Linked DNA regions of Homo sapiens: regions 2 and 3 are each reported to be linked to region 1. The links are microRNA targets in miRTarBase. Many come from high-throughput screens and were not tested one by one. Region 1 holds a microRNA gene; each other region holds the end of a gene's coding sequence.
What was found. The annotated mature microRNA hsa-miR-6515-5p reads UUGGAGGGUGUGGAAGACAUC and lies in region 1 at 1,350-1,370, shown strand. An mRNA with a match to its seed (bases 2 to 7 or 8) in the 3' UTR can be bound and repressed. Matches are read on the target gene's strand: a 7mer-m8 pairs with bases 2 to 8, a 7mer-A1 pairs with bases 2 to 7 and ends in A, and an 8mer does both.

Region 1 (4,125 bases):
GGTGGACTTCCCGCTGGATCGAATCCAAACACAAGTCAGATTTTGGCAAATTCGTTCTCAGTTCCGGCAAGTTCTACGGTGACGAGGAGAAAGATAAAGGTAAGAGCCTAGGAGTGGGTGCTCAGATCCGGGAGGACTTCCTGGCAGAAGTCCTTGTCTGTACACACACAGCCGGGACAGTCCCCTTGGAGGAGGACAGGTGGAGGAAGTGGGGGAGTCTTCTCTATTCTCTAAGTCGAGGGTCCTCGCGAGTCAAGGCCCAACGGTGACCTCACTACCGTCCCGTCTCAGGTTTGCAGACAAGCCAGGATGCACGCTTTTATGCTCTGTCGGCCAGTTTCGAGCCTTTCAGCAACAAAGGCCAGACGCTGGTGGTGCAGTTCACGGTGAAACATGAGCAGAACATCGACTGTGGGGGCGGCTATGTGAAGCTGTTTCCTAATAGTTTGGACCAGACAGACATGCACGGAGACTCAGAATACAACATCATGTTTGGTGAGGGCCTGCTTCCTGGTGCTGATCTCTGTCCCATTAGTTAGAGGGAGACCCAGACCCCATTGACTTTCTTAATAATGATTTTTTTTGGAAGGGGAGCTAAAAGAATAAGTCCCAGCAACAATTTATTGCATTATGATCGCAGATCTAGGCTGTTAATTTAATTTGCGTGTTTGTATATAGTTATTTCCCAATCTTACTAATGAGGATTTTGAGTTCTAGAGCACTGATTTTTTTTTTTTCTCCTTTAAACTTAAGGCTCCACCCACAGCCCATTCAGGACAGAATCAGGGTCTGAGTTTCTCTTCTCAGCCTTGACAGACCCGAGTTGAAGAACCAGGTCTTCCTTTTATAAAGAGGGGTGAGAGCCTCGAGATGATGGGTAGTCTCTGACTCTTAACTGGATCTGCTTCACACCTAGGTCCCGACATCTGTGGCCCTGGCACCAAGAAGGTTCATGTCATCTTCAACTACAAGGGCAAGAACGTGCTGATCAACAAGGACATCCGTTGCAAGGTGTGCCTGGGGGTGGTGGCAAATGGCTGTCATGGGGAGATTCAGAGGTCAGCCTCATTGGGGGGTGGCCCCCGCTCACCTTCTTCCTTCTTCAGGATGATGAGTTTACACACCTGTACACACTGATTGTGCGGCCAGACAACACCTATGAGGTGAAGATTGACAACAGCCAGGTGGAGTCCGGCTCCTTGGAAGACGATTGGGACTTCCTGCCACCCAAGAAGATAAAGGATCCTGATGCTTCAAAACCGGAAGACTGGGATGAGCGGGCCAAGATCGATGATCCCACAGACTCCAAGCCTGAGGTTGGTGTTTGGGCAGGGGCTCTGCTCTCCACATTGGAGGGTGTGGAAGACATCTGGGCCAACTCTGATCTCTTCATCTACCCCCCAGGACTGGGACAAGCCCGAGCATATCCCTGACCCTGATGCTAAGAAGCCCGAGGACTGGGATGAAGAGATGGACGGAGAGTGGGAACCCCCAGTGATTCAGAACCCTGAGTACAAGGTGAGTTTGGGGCTCTGAGCAGGGCTGGGGCTCACAGTGGGGAGTGCACCAACCTTACTCACCCTTCGGTTTCCTTCTCCCTTCTGCAGGGTGAGTGGAAGCCCCGGCAGATCGACAACCCAGATTACAAGGGCACTTGGATCCACCCAGAAATTGACAACCCCGAGTATTCTCCCGATCCCAGTATCTATGCCTATGATAACTTTGGCGTGCTGGGCCTGGACCTCTGGCAGGTGAGACTTGGAGGAAAAAGGAGGATCCCTGGGGTACCTCAAGTGCATAAGATCACCCAAGAGGAAAGGGACAGGGTAGGCACCCCAGGTGAGTCTGACTCAAAAATGGTACTTCTTGTAAACAGTACTTCCTGGTCTGTCCCTGTGAAGTCCTCACAGCAACCCCTTTAAGGTTATACTTGCTGTGCACCAAGTACTTCCCCAAGTACTTTTATGCAAATCAACTTCTTTACCCCCAAAGACCTAGAAGGTGGTCAGGTAACCCAGTTAGTTAGCTGGGGCTGGGCACAGTGGCTCACCCTTACAATCACGGTACTTTGGGAGGCTGAGACAGAGGATTGCTTGAGGCCAGGAGTTACACAACTCAACCTAGCTTGGCAACACAGCGAGGAGACCCTATCTCTACAAAAAAAATTTTTTTTTTTGAGACAGAGTTTCACTCTTGTTGCTGAGGCTGGAGTGCAATGGCACGATCTCAGCTCACTGCGCCCTCCGTCTCCTGGTTTCAAGCGATTCTCCTGCCTCAGCCTCCGGAGTAGCTGGGATTACAGGCATGTGCTACTATGGATGCCAGGCTAATTTTTTTTTTTTTTTTTTTTTTTGAGACCGTGCCTTGCTCTGTCGCCCAGGCTGGAGTGCAGTGGTGTGATCTCTGCTCACTGCAAGCTCCGCACGACCCCCCAGGTTCACTCCATTCTTCTGCCTCAGGGTCCCGAGTAACTGGGACTACAGGCACCCCCCACCATGCCTGGCTAATTTTTTTGTATTTTTTTTTTTAGTACAGACATGGTTTCACCGTGTTAGCCAGGATGGTCTCCATCTCCTGACCTCATGAACCACCCACCTTGGCCTCCCAAAGTGCTGGGATTACAGGCGTGAGCCACCTCACCCAGCCTTTTTGTAGAGACAGGGCTTCATGTTGCCCAGGTTGGTCTCGAACTCCTGGCCTCAGGTCATCTGCCCGCCTCGGCCTCCCAAAGTGCTGGGATTACAAGGGTTAGCCACCATGCCTAGCCTCTACAAAAACTTTAAAAATTGGCGAGATGTCATGCATACCTGTAGTCCCAACTACCAAGGAAGAAGGATGATCACTTGAGCCTGGGGCATCGAGGCTGCAGTGAGCCATGATTATGTCACTGCACTCCAGCCTCGGTGACAGAGTGAGACCCTCTCAAAAAAAGTTGGGACTTGGCCGGACACAGTGGCTCACACCTGTAATCCCAGCACTTTGGGAGGCCAAGGCGGGTGGATCACAAGGTCAGGAGATGGAGACCATCCTGGCTAACATGGTGAATGAAACCCCATCTCTAGTAAAAATACAAAAAATTTGCCAGGTGTGGTGGTGGGCGCCTGTAGTCCCAGCTACTCGGGAGGCTGAGGCAAAAGGATGACGTGAACCCGGGAGGCGGAGCTTGCAGTGAGCTGAGATCATGCCATTGCACTCCAGCCTGGGTGATAGCGAGACTCTGTCCCAAAAAAAAAAAAAAATGCTGGGACTGAATTTTTGTCTGTTTTGGTCACTGAAATACCTTCTGTGCCCAAGACAGTTCTGGCATGTAGTAGGTACCTGAAAAATACCTGAATAAGAGAGTGAGAAACAAGAAACAGGTGCAGAGAACTGAAGTCAGTGGCCCAAGGTCATGGGGGTAGGAAACCACAAAGCTGGGGTTTGAACCTGGGCAGTACAGCACCTGAGTCTCTCCATCTTTTTTTTTTTTTTTTTTTAAGACAGAGTCTTGCTCTGTCACCCAGGTTGGAGTGCAGTGGCTTGATCTCGGCTCACTGCAGCCTCTGCCTTCCAGGTTCAAGTGATTCTCATGCCTCATCCTCTCGAGCAGCTGGAATTACAGGCATGCGCCACGACGCTGGGCTTTTTTTTTTTTGAGATGGAATTTCACTCTTGTTGCCCAGGCTGGAGTGCAATGATGCAATCTCGGCGGCTCACCACAACCTCTGCATCCCAGATTCAAGCGATTCTCCTGCCTCGGCCTCCTGAGTAGCTGGGATTACAGGGATGCGCCATCACAGACCCCGGGCTAATTTTTTTTAGTAGAGACAGAGTTTCACTATGTTGCCCAGGTTGGTCTCGAACTCCTGGCCTCAAGTGATCCGTTCGCCATGACCTCCCAAAGTGCTGGGATTACAGGCATGAGCCCGTCCCGTCCCTGGCTGTCTCTCCATCTTTCCATCTTTTTTTTTTTTTTTTTTTTTTTTGGAGATGGAGTCTCACTCTGTCACCCAGGCTGGAGTGCAGTGGCACGATCTTGGCTCACTGCAAGCTCCGCCTCCTGGGTTCACATCATTCTCCTGTCTCAGCCTCCCAAATAGCTGGGACTACAGGCACTTGCCACCACGCCTGGCTGATTTTTTGTAT
Region 2 (4,125 bases), not on the chromosome of region 1:
CTGGGCAACCTGCGTTCTCTGCTACAGATCTTACGCCAGGATATGACTCCAGGAGGTGGCCCAGGTGCCCGCCGTCGTCAGCGGGGCCGCTTGATGCGACGCCTGGTACGCCGTCTCCGCCGCTGGGGCTTGCTCCCTCGAACCAACACCCCGGCTCGGGCCTCTGAGGCCAGATCCCAGGTCACACCTTCTGCTGCTCCCCTTGAGGCCCTAGATGGTGGCACAGGTCCAGCCCGTGAGGGCGGGGCAGTGGGTGGGCAAGATGGGGAGCAGGCACCCCCACTGCCCATCAAGGCTCCCCTCCCATCTGCTAGCACGTCTCCAGCCCCCACTACTGTCCCTGAAGCCCCAGGGCCACTGCCCTCACTGCCCCTAGAGCCATCACTATTGTCTGGAGTGGTGCAGGCCCTGCGAGGCCGCCTGTTGCCCAGCCTGGGGCCCCCAGGACCAACCCGGAGCCCCCCTGGACCCCACACAGCAGTCCTGGCCCTGGAAGATGAGGACGATGTGCTACTGGTGCCACTGGCTGAGCCGGGGGTGTGGGTAGCTGAGGCAGAGGATGAGCCACTGCTTACCTGAGGGGACCTGGGGGCTCTACTGAGGCCTCTCCCCTGGGGGCTCTACTCATAGTGGCACAACCTTTTAGAGGTGGGTCAGCCTCCCCTCCACCACTTCCTTCCCTGTCCCTGGATTTCAGGGACTTGGTGGGCCTCCCGTTGACCCTATGTAGCTGCTATAAAGTTAAGTGTCCCTCAGGCAGGGAGAGGGCTCACAGAGTCTCCTCTGTACGTGGCCATGGCCAGACACCCCAGTCCCTTCACCACCACCTGCTCCCCACGCCACCACCATTTGGGTGGCTGTTTTTAAAAAGTAAAGTTCTTAGAGGATCATAGGTCTGGACACTCCATCCTTGCCAAACCTCTACCCAAAAGTGGCCTTAAGCACCGGAATGCCAATTAACTAGAGACCCTCCAGCCCCCAAGGGGAGGATTTGGGCAGAACCTGAGGTTTTGCCATCCACAATCCCTCCTACAGGGCCTGGCTCACAAAAAGAGTGCAACAAATGCTTCTATTCCATAGCTACGGCATTGCTCAGTAAGTTGAGGTCAAAAATAAAGGAATCATACATCTCAAAATTTTGCAAATTAGCTGCGAGCCTGAGCCCCGCCTCTGCCCATCTCAGTCTATGCTCACCTCATCCCACTCCTCCCTGTGGAGCCCTTTGCTTGGCCCTCTACCTCCTGCCCTCTTCCTGTTCATCTCCCAACCACTGCACTCTTGATTTTTATACCACACAGAAGGTAAGAAAATTCTAGGAACCCTAAGGATCAATCCTCTCCATTTTCACTCAAATGCCTGGGGCCCAGCTCTGCAATGACTGACTCCAGGGCCTCTTTCCTCACTGCCAGCATAGAAGTCAGGGGAGCCAGCTGGGCCCTGCGGTCAGGAAGGTTCTCATTTTTGGAGCATACCCTGAGCCCAGATCATAGGAGCAGCTGTCCCTGGTGGGACACAGGAGTCATGACTCCTACCCTCCACCCTCCACACCCACCAGGCATTTAGCAGTCTGTCCTATGCAAGACAGATGAATTCTCAGCCAGGATACCTCAAGGCAGGCAAAGGTGAGTGGAGGGAGAATTCACAAACATTCAGGGTGTGTGGTGCTGGCATCACCATGGCCAAATCCAAGAGGTCTTCCTGGAAGAGGGCCCAAACTGGAACCAAAAGAATGCTGTCAGCAGTTGGAATAGAGCTGTGAATTCTAGACAGGGGGAGTGTCCCCAGAACAAGCAAACGGAGGAGACAAGAGGGCAAGGGTTATAGGAAAGACCCTGGGCCTGAGAGCACAAGCAGCGGCCAGAGCTGCAGCGCTGGGGTGGGTGATGGAGGGAATGATTCGCAAGCAGTGTTGGAACCCAGCCCCTAGTGAGCAAAGTGACAGAAGCTGCCCCAGAGTTTGGAAGGAAGATCGAGGCAGAAGATGTAGAAGGAAGCTGTGGGGGTGGGAGTGATGCCTCAGGAACAAAACTGAGGAATTCCCTAACGGACCCAGTCCCTGGGGAAAGAGGCTCCCCTCAGGCTCTCCTTGTCTAGCCCCACACCTGGCAGAGCCTGTCACCCAGCCTAGCCCCACGCCTGGCAGAGCCCATCACCCAGCCTAGCCCCACACCTGGTGGAGAGGCCCTGTTGATTACACCCTGTCAGCCTCCTCAAACCCAGCACTAATTGCACAATTTTCCTCTCTTCTAGTGAGCAAGAGCCTGAGGAAGTAGCAGAGAGGGGTGTGGGCCCATGTGCAGTTCTGGGACCCTGGCACCTTGGCTCAGGGAAGACCCGAGCTCCTTTCACTGCAGACCCTCTCCAGAGACTGGGGAGAGGGCTCTGGAGAACCTGGTTCTTGCTTACTGTTCTCCCTTTGGGCCCTCCTTCCCAAACGCAAACAATCCAGGATCCACTCAGCGTCAGGCCCAATGGAAATAGTGAAGCAGTGATTTTCCCTCCCCTGCCTCTCCATAGCCTGGTCTTTTGCCCTCTCCTTTGCTCTTCTCTTCCCCCATAGCCACCTCAAATACCTGCAGCCTGATATCTTCATCCCTTCATCCAGACCTTTTCTCTCCTAGTGGTATTGCAAACTGAAAGTGGACAAAGACTTAAGGTAAACCTGCTCCTCATGGTGGAATGCTTCCAAATGCTGGAAGGAGGACTTTAGGGCAGAGTTCACTAAGGAGGCTTGTGCTTATAGATCAGTGGGCCTGAAAGAAGTTTCTCTAGGTTCTGGTTGTGTGCTGTACGAGGTGTAGGTAGTAATAATACTCTTGTCAGCCACAGTGAAGCCCCAAGCTAGCCGGGATAGGGGACTGACCTTGTACAGGCAGCATGGAGAAACTAAGACAGAGTGTCCTGCCCAAGTGATGGCACTGGGGAGCAGTCACTCAGGTTTATTTCCACCAGGGCCCAAGAAAAAAAGAAATGAGGCAACCTAAAATTCCATCAAGATAGATACCAATATCCAAGGTGCTTGGTCTTAGCGGTGTGGGACCCACGTTAAGGCTCTTGGTGGGAAGGTGGGAGGTGTTTTCAGCATGAGATAGGGTTCAGGCTGTGAATCAGAGTCTAGAGCCTAAGATAAAAGAAGATACCAGGGCTGGGCCACGGTGGCTTTCGCCTGTAATCCTAGCACTTTGGGAGGCCAAGGCAGGCAGACTGCCTGAGCTCAGGAGTTCGAGACTAGCCTGAGCAACACGGTGAAACCCTGTCTCTACTAAAATACAAAAAAGTAGCCAGGTGTGGCGGCATGCACCTGTAGTCCCAGCTACTCGAGAGGCTGAGGCAGGAGAATTGCTTGAACCCGGGAGGCGGAGGTTGCAGTGAGTGGAGATCGCGCCACTGCACTCTAGCCTGGGTGACAGAGCGAGACTCCTTCTCCAAAAAAAAAGAAAAGAAGATACCAGAACTCAGTCCTTAAGAAACAAAATTCTGCCAGGCGCAGTAGCTCACACCTGTAATCCCAGCACTTTGGAGGGGCCAAGGCAGGCGGATCGCTTGAGGCCAAGAGTTCAAGAACAGCCTGGGCAACATGATGAAACCCTGTCTCTACCAAAAATACTAAAAATTAGCCAGTCTCACAACCTGGTCTCAAAATAAATAAATAGATTTAAAAAAAAAATCATGGGCCTGAACCAAGCTCCAGACCTCACTAGGAGGGGAGAAGGACCCCCCAGCCACACAGCCCAAGGCTGCAGAAGCACCTAGGTGGTTAGAGAGTGAGTGCCTGGATGGGGCGCAGTGGCTCACACCTGTAATCCCAGCACTTTGGGAGGCCGAGGCAGGCGGATCACGAGGTCAAGAGATCAAGACCATCCTGGCCAACATGGTGACACCGTGTCTCTACTAAAAATACAAAAATAAGCTGGGCATGGTGGTGCGTGCCTGTAGTCCCATCTACTCGGGAGGCTGAAGCAGGAGAATCACTTGAACCTGGGAGGCAAAGGTTGCAGTGAGCTGAGATCGCGCCACTGCACTCCAGCCTGGCAACAGAGCGAGACAAGACTCCATCTCAAAAAAAAAAGTGAGTGCCCGATGATGCCAGATTCTTCATCACCTGAAGTGAACCCACACAACAGG
Region 3 (4,125 bases), not on the chromosome of region 1:
ACACACACACACACACACACACACACACCGTCTACAACTGGCCAAGCCTTTGCCCCTCCGGTGCTCCAGGGTTATCAGACGCTGGGCCTGCACAGCGGTCTGGGGCAGAGCCCTGACAGCCAGATCTACCATCAATTTACCTTCCGCCGCCGCAGCTTCCCATTTAGCTTTTAACGTCAAATCCTACATTTTTGTCGGCTCCGGCCTGTCTAGAACGCTTGTGATTTCCCTGCAGGAGTGATTGCTCTTAACAAAATGGCAGCAACCACATTATCCGAGCAATTAAAACAGAGGCCTTTTAGCCGGTCCCGCAAGTAGAGGCTTGGAAAATTTTTTTAAACAAAGAAGAAAAAGTTAAAAGAGAAATAAGTGTTGGAAGAGAAAAGCATGGAAGCTCAGAAGAAACGTCTGCCCAGTACGCCTTTCACTTCCTGGGACTTGACAACCTGGGGCGGGGATGTTGGGTGGCTGAGAGCGGCTGGGGTGACAGATAATCTGGGGTGTCCTGCAGGTTGAAGCATCTGGTCAGTTGGGGTGTGCGTCTGGTTAGGGGGTTCAGCCGCCTGCAGTGTCAGGCAGCTGGGCATTCTGCCGTCTGGGGTGTCCGGTCTGCTGGGTGTCTGGCTGGTTAGGGTTTCTGGCGAGTTGAAATGGCAGGGCGGGTGGGGTGACCAGGCCTAGTGTTGCTGGCCCTGAGGAAGAGGAGGCAGGCTGTGCTTGGCCGGGGCCAAAGAGGAGCGCAGGTTTAAAAAGCAAGTGTATTAGCAAGTTTCTCCGTAGCAATGGTGCGCCAGGGTCTTTTGGTTTCCCTCTGTTGTTGTTTAATAAGCCAGAGAAAGTGTTAAATCTGCAGAAGTGCCTTAAGGCCCAGATGGCGGAGACCAGCTACACAAGGTGCAGAGAAGCGTAGGTGCATGGTGAAGATAACTCCTCTCCGTTTCCTGTTTTTAAAACCTCACCTCCTCCGCCACTGTTTACTCCAACACTTTGGTAGGCTCCTTTCTTCCACGTCTAGGACCTGATGGCTTTCTCCTGAGCAGATTAAAATAAAGACGCGGAAGACAACTGGAATCAGGAGAGGGAGGGAACCACTGGATCAAACGCAGGAGGATTGGGAGAGCAACAGAAAATCAGGGCGCGCCTCCCCCACACCTCCTCCCCATGCTATAAACAAAGGCAAGTGTCTGTAAACACAGCCCCGCGCCCACCAGGTCGGCCCAGCGCCGGCTGACCCAAGGGGAGAAAGTTCAGATCGCTTTGGCCGAGTTGTTCTAACCCCTCGCCCTCGCGTTGTCAGCCGCCCGCAGAAGTCCGCAGAGCCTCTAGCTTGTCTCTCCCTGGGCACTTCTGAATTCGCCCACGCCGGGTCTGATTCGGCCTGCTGCAGGCAGAGGGGTCATAGTGGACACCAGCTAGGCGTGGGAACCCTTGGGACATCGCGGGAGGGTCTGTGCCCGAGGCCAAGTTGCGAACATCACCCTGAGGATGGGTTCCAGGATGGAAACCCTCTGGCAAGCCTCTCCAACACCAGATTTATATACGCGGCGTTCCATGAAACAAACCACTTTTTAATACGGTTCACCTTTCTCCTCCTCCCACCCCCTTCCAAAATCCCTCCCAGCCTCCTCCCCCCTTCCCGCAGCCTGCACAGGCACTTTAGTTTCTCCGGTTTCTAGAGCTGAGATTCAAGCTTCCGCCAAGGCTGCAGGCAAAGGAGGCCGCTGGGACTTTCTTCTGGGACGAGCTGGGACTCAGGGAGCCCAAAGACCCAACAGGGAGAGATCCCGGGTCCCGTGCTGCCGGTAGTCCCGGAAGGGTGTCGCTTGTTTCGCTGGGCTGCGGCCGGGAAGACTTCAGACACCGCACAGTTAATATTGAGTTCCCTGTAACTCCTTGTAAATCTAACCCGCCCCTCGCCCCTCTTTAAATCCGTGGTCTTGTTCACGATTTCTTACTTGACGTAAAATTCCTTGTTACCTAATCATGGACTTTTTCGAAACTCCCTCCACCCCCCTTTCCCGCCTGCTCAGATGAGAAGCCCCCGTATAGAATACAAGCAAAATCCTCTCCTCTCTTTTCTTTTTCCTTTTTTTTTTCTTGGATGAAAGCCCCATAGTTTGAATTAAACACCCCAGACTAGTTCCCGTTGCAGCAATAATGCCGGGGTTCTCCTCACAACTCCTCCACCAGAAACACTCTCCAAACAAAAACTGACGGCCTCAAGAAATGGCTTCTGATTGACTTCAGGAAAGCAAGAGCACCTTTACACCTTCTGAGCGAACTGCCGGACTGGGTTCTCCAGCCCAGATCTTCCTTCTAGAGACTACTCAGCGTTCTCCAGCTGGGGGAAGAGGGAAGGAGACACCACACCGACAAACCCCAGACCATTTGCAGGATTTGTAACAAGGACACTTCTCTTTAAGAGCACCTCCTCCTCCTGCGTAGGCCGCAGGTCAGGGTGACTGGTTGGAACCACTGAGTCTTTAAAATAAAGTTAGAGGCAATCATGATAATTTAGTTTACTTCTGAATATTTTAAATATTACGAAAACAAGTATAACAGCTTTGTTTTCAAAACTCTTTTGAGGTATCAGCCATTAAAAGATTAAGGTTTTTGTAAAAAAAAAACACAGTGGTTTATTGAATACTTACAACGTTTACACCTTCAATATTAATTAAATTCCATTTAGTTTTAGAGGACGGAAGTGCACAAAACAAGTGGCTGTTGGAAACATCTTCAAAGAGGGAACGACCACAGATGAATGGATAGCACTAGATACCGACCCCAACGGAAATGTTAGCGGCCCTGTTTTCTGCTTTGAAATAAAACTTTATAATACCCAGGAATATTTATATCCAAAGGCCAAGTATTAAAGATACACTTCACAAACGCACTAGTGCCCACTGTCTTTATCTGGAAGGGGTTGAGTAGGTTGGCGGGGGGCAACGCTGGTGTCTACACAGCCAAGAGGGAACATTCACGCACACAGAATCTATGAGACGACGGGATCCCTTACCACACGGGAGTGTCCTCTTCGTATTAAAATATGGAATGCTTTTCTTCAAATATCCACTTTTTTTTTGGAGGGGGAGACGGGGAGCAGATGCCTCAAAGGGGGTCAAAGAGAGGGGAAGGAAATTGCACATAAATAAACCGGATGATTCCAAATGCAAGGAGTCCTCAGAGCGGAGCGCGGACGGCTTTTCCGGAGTCCTGGGTCTGCATCTGGCGCCTTGGCCCCTGCTCACTCGCGCTCTCCTCCTCCTCCTTCTCCTCCTCCTCACTGCTTGAGCTCCAGGGCCCAGACGTGCTGCGGCCAGCCCGTCCGGCCTTTGGTTTTCTTGTCGTTGCTGCTCACTGTGCTTTTCAAGATTTCGTTCTGGACAGAGGAAAGGCGAGGGCGAGAAAAGTGGAAAGAGAAATTCAGAGAGGATACCTGGTTCCACACCAACCCGGAGCTTCCTGCGCCGGAGGAGACAGTGAACCAGAGAGGAAAGGATACGATGGGGGAGTCCCAGCCCCTGCAGAGAAGCTACCAAGGTTAGCGCTACCCTAGCCGGCGGGGAGGCCTCGGCGCTGCAGCGCTCAACAACCGGATCCACAAGTTTATAAACAACCGCCCGTTTTCGAGTCGTTTATGGAGGAGCGGGGGGCCTTTTCTCTTACTCCAGATGTAGGGGCGGGAGCTGGAGTCGGCGCTAAGTCTGGTTTCTCTGTTTTCATTAGCAATCCTAGATCCACATCTAGGAAAAATAGGGCGAAGGAGCCTCTGTTTCGGCCTGGGCCTCTCGGCCAGAGGCTCTCGGCCTCCAGCTCAGCAGTGCCTCTCCTCCAAGGCTTCTGAAATCTCTGGTTATTCGGGAGGTCACTCGATTATGCAGCCACCAAAGGGCTGCAGGGGCCAAAGAAGAAAAATTCGACAAATGCAATTATTTTCCGGGCCCTTCGTGGACATAGCTCTATCCTGCACCACTGCCCTGTGGGCACTTGGTAGGAATCTGAGAAAATTTTAAGCGGCTCAATTTACTTTCGTGTTATTTTTAATAACAATGACCATAGTAATGCCTTTTCCCCCTTAAAATGTACAGGCTTATTCAAATAAAATTAGAAATGCCAATGGAATAT

Region 2: the mRNA of LRP10 is a reported target of hsa-miR-6515-5p. Seed matches in the 3' UTR shown: 7mer-m8 at 662-668, 7mer-m8 at 968-974, 7mer-m8 at 1,532-1,538 and 7mer-m8 at 1,539-1,545.
Region 3: miRTarBase lists HAND2 as a target of hsa-miR-6515-5p. Seed matches in the 3' UTR shown: 8mer at 3,081-3,088.

Annotation. Positions count from the first base shown.
Region 1 is chr19:12,939,137-12,943,261 of GRCh38, forward strand. MIR6515 (microRNA 6515) reads left to right here and starts at 1,348; the gene lies at 1,348-1,404. It overlaps CALR (calreticulin), which reads left to right. Exons shown (of 9, transcript NM_004343.4): 2 at 1-99; 3 at 292-495; 4 at 917-1,011; 5 at 1,107-1,316; 6 at 1,405-1,518; 7 at 1,608-1,751. RefSeq lists enhancers at 1-520, 757-1,956, 1,293-1,920.
Region 2 is chr14:22,876,949-22,881,073 of GRCh38, forward strand. LRP10 (LDL receptor related protein 10) reads left to right here. Exons shown (of 7, transcript NM_014045.5): 7 at 1-4,125. The coding sequence ends at 579. Among named protein-coding and RNA genes, the nearest start is that of REM2, 4.2 kb to the right of the region's middle.
Region 3 is chr4:173,523,997-173,528,121 of GRCh38, forward strand. It overlaps HAND2 (heart and neural crest derivatives expressed 2), which reads right to left. Exons shown (of 2, transcript NM_021973.3): 2 at 2,095-3,379. The coding sequence ends at 3,281. Among named protein-coding and RNA genes, the nearest start is that of HAND2, 4.2 kb to the right of the region's middle. RefSeq lists an enhancer at 748-1,289.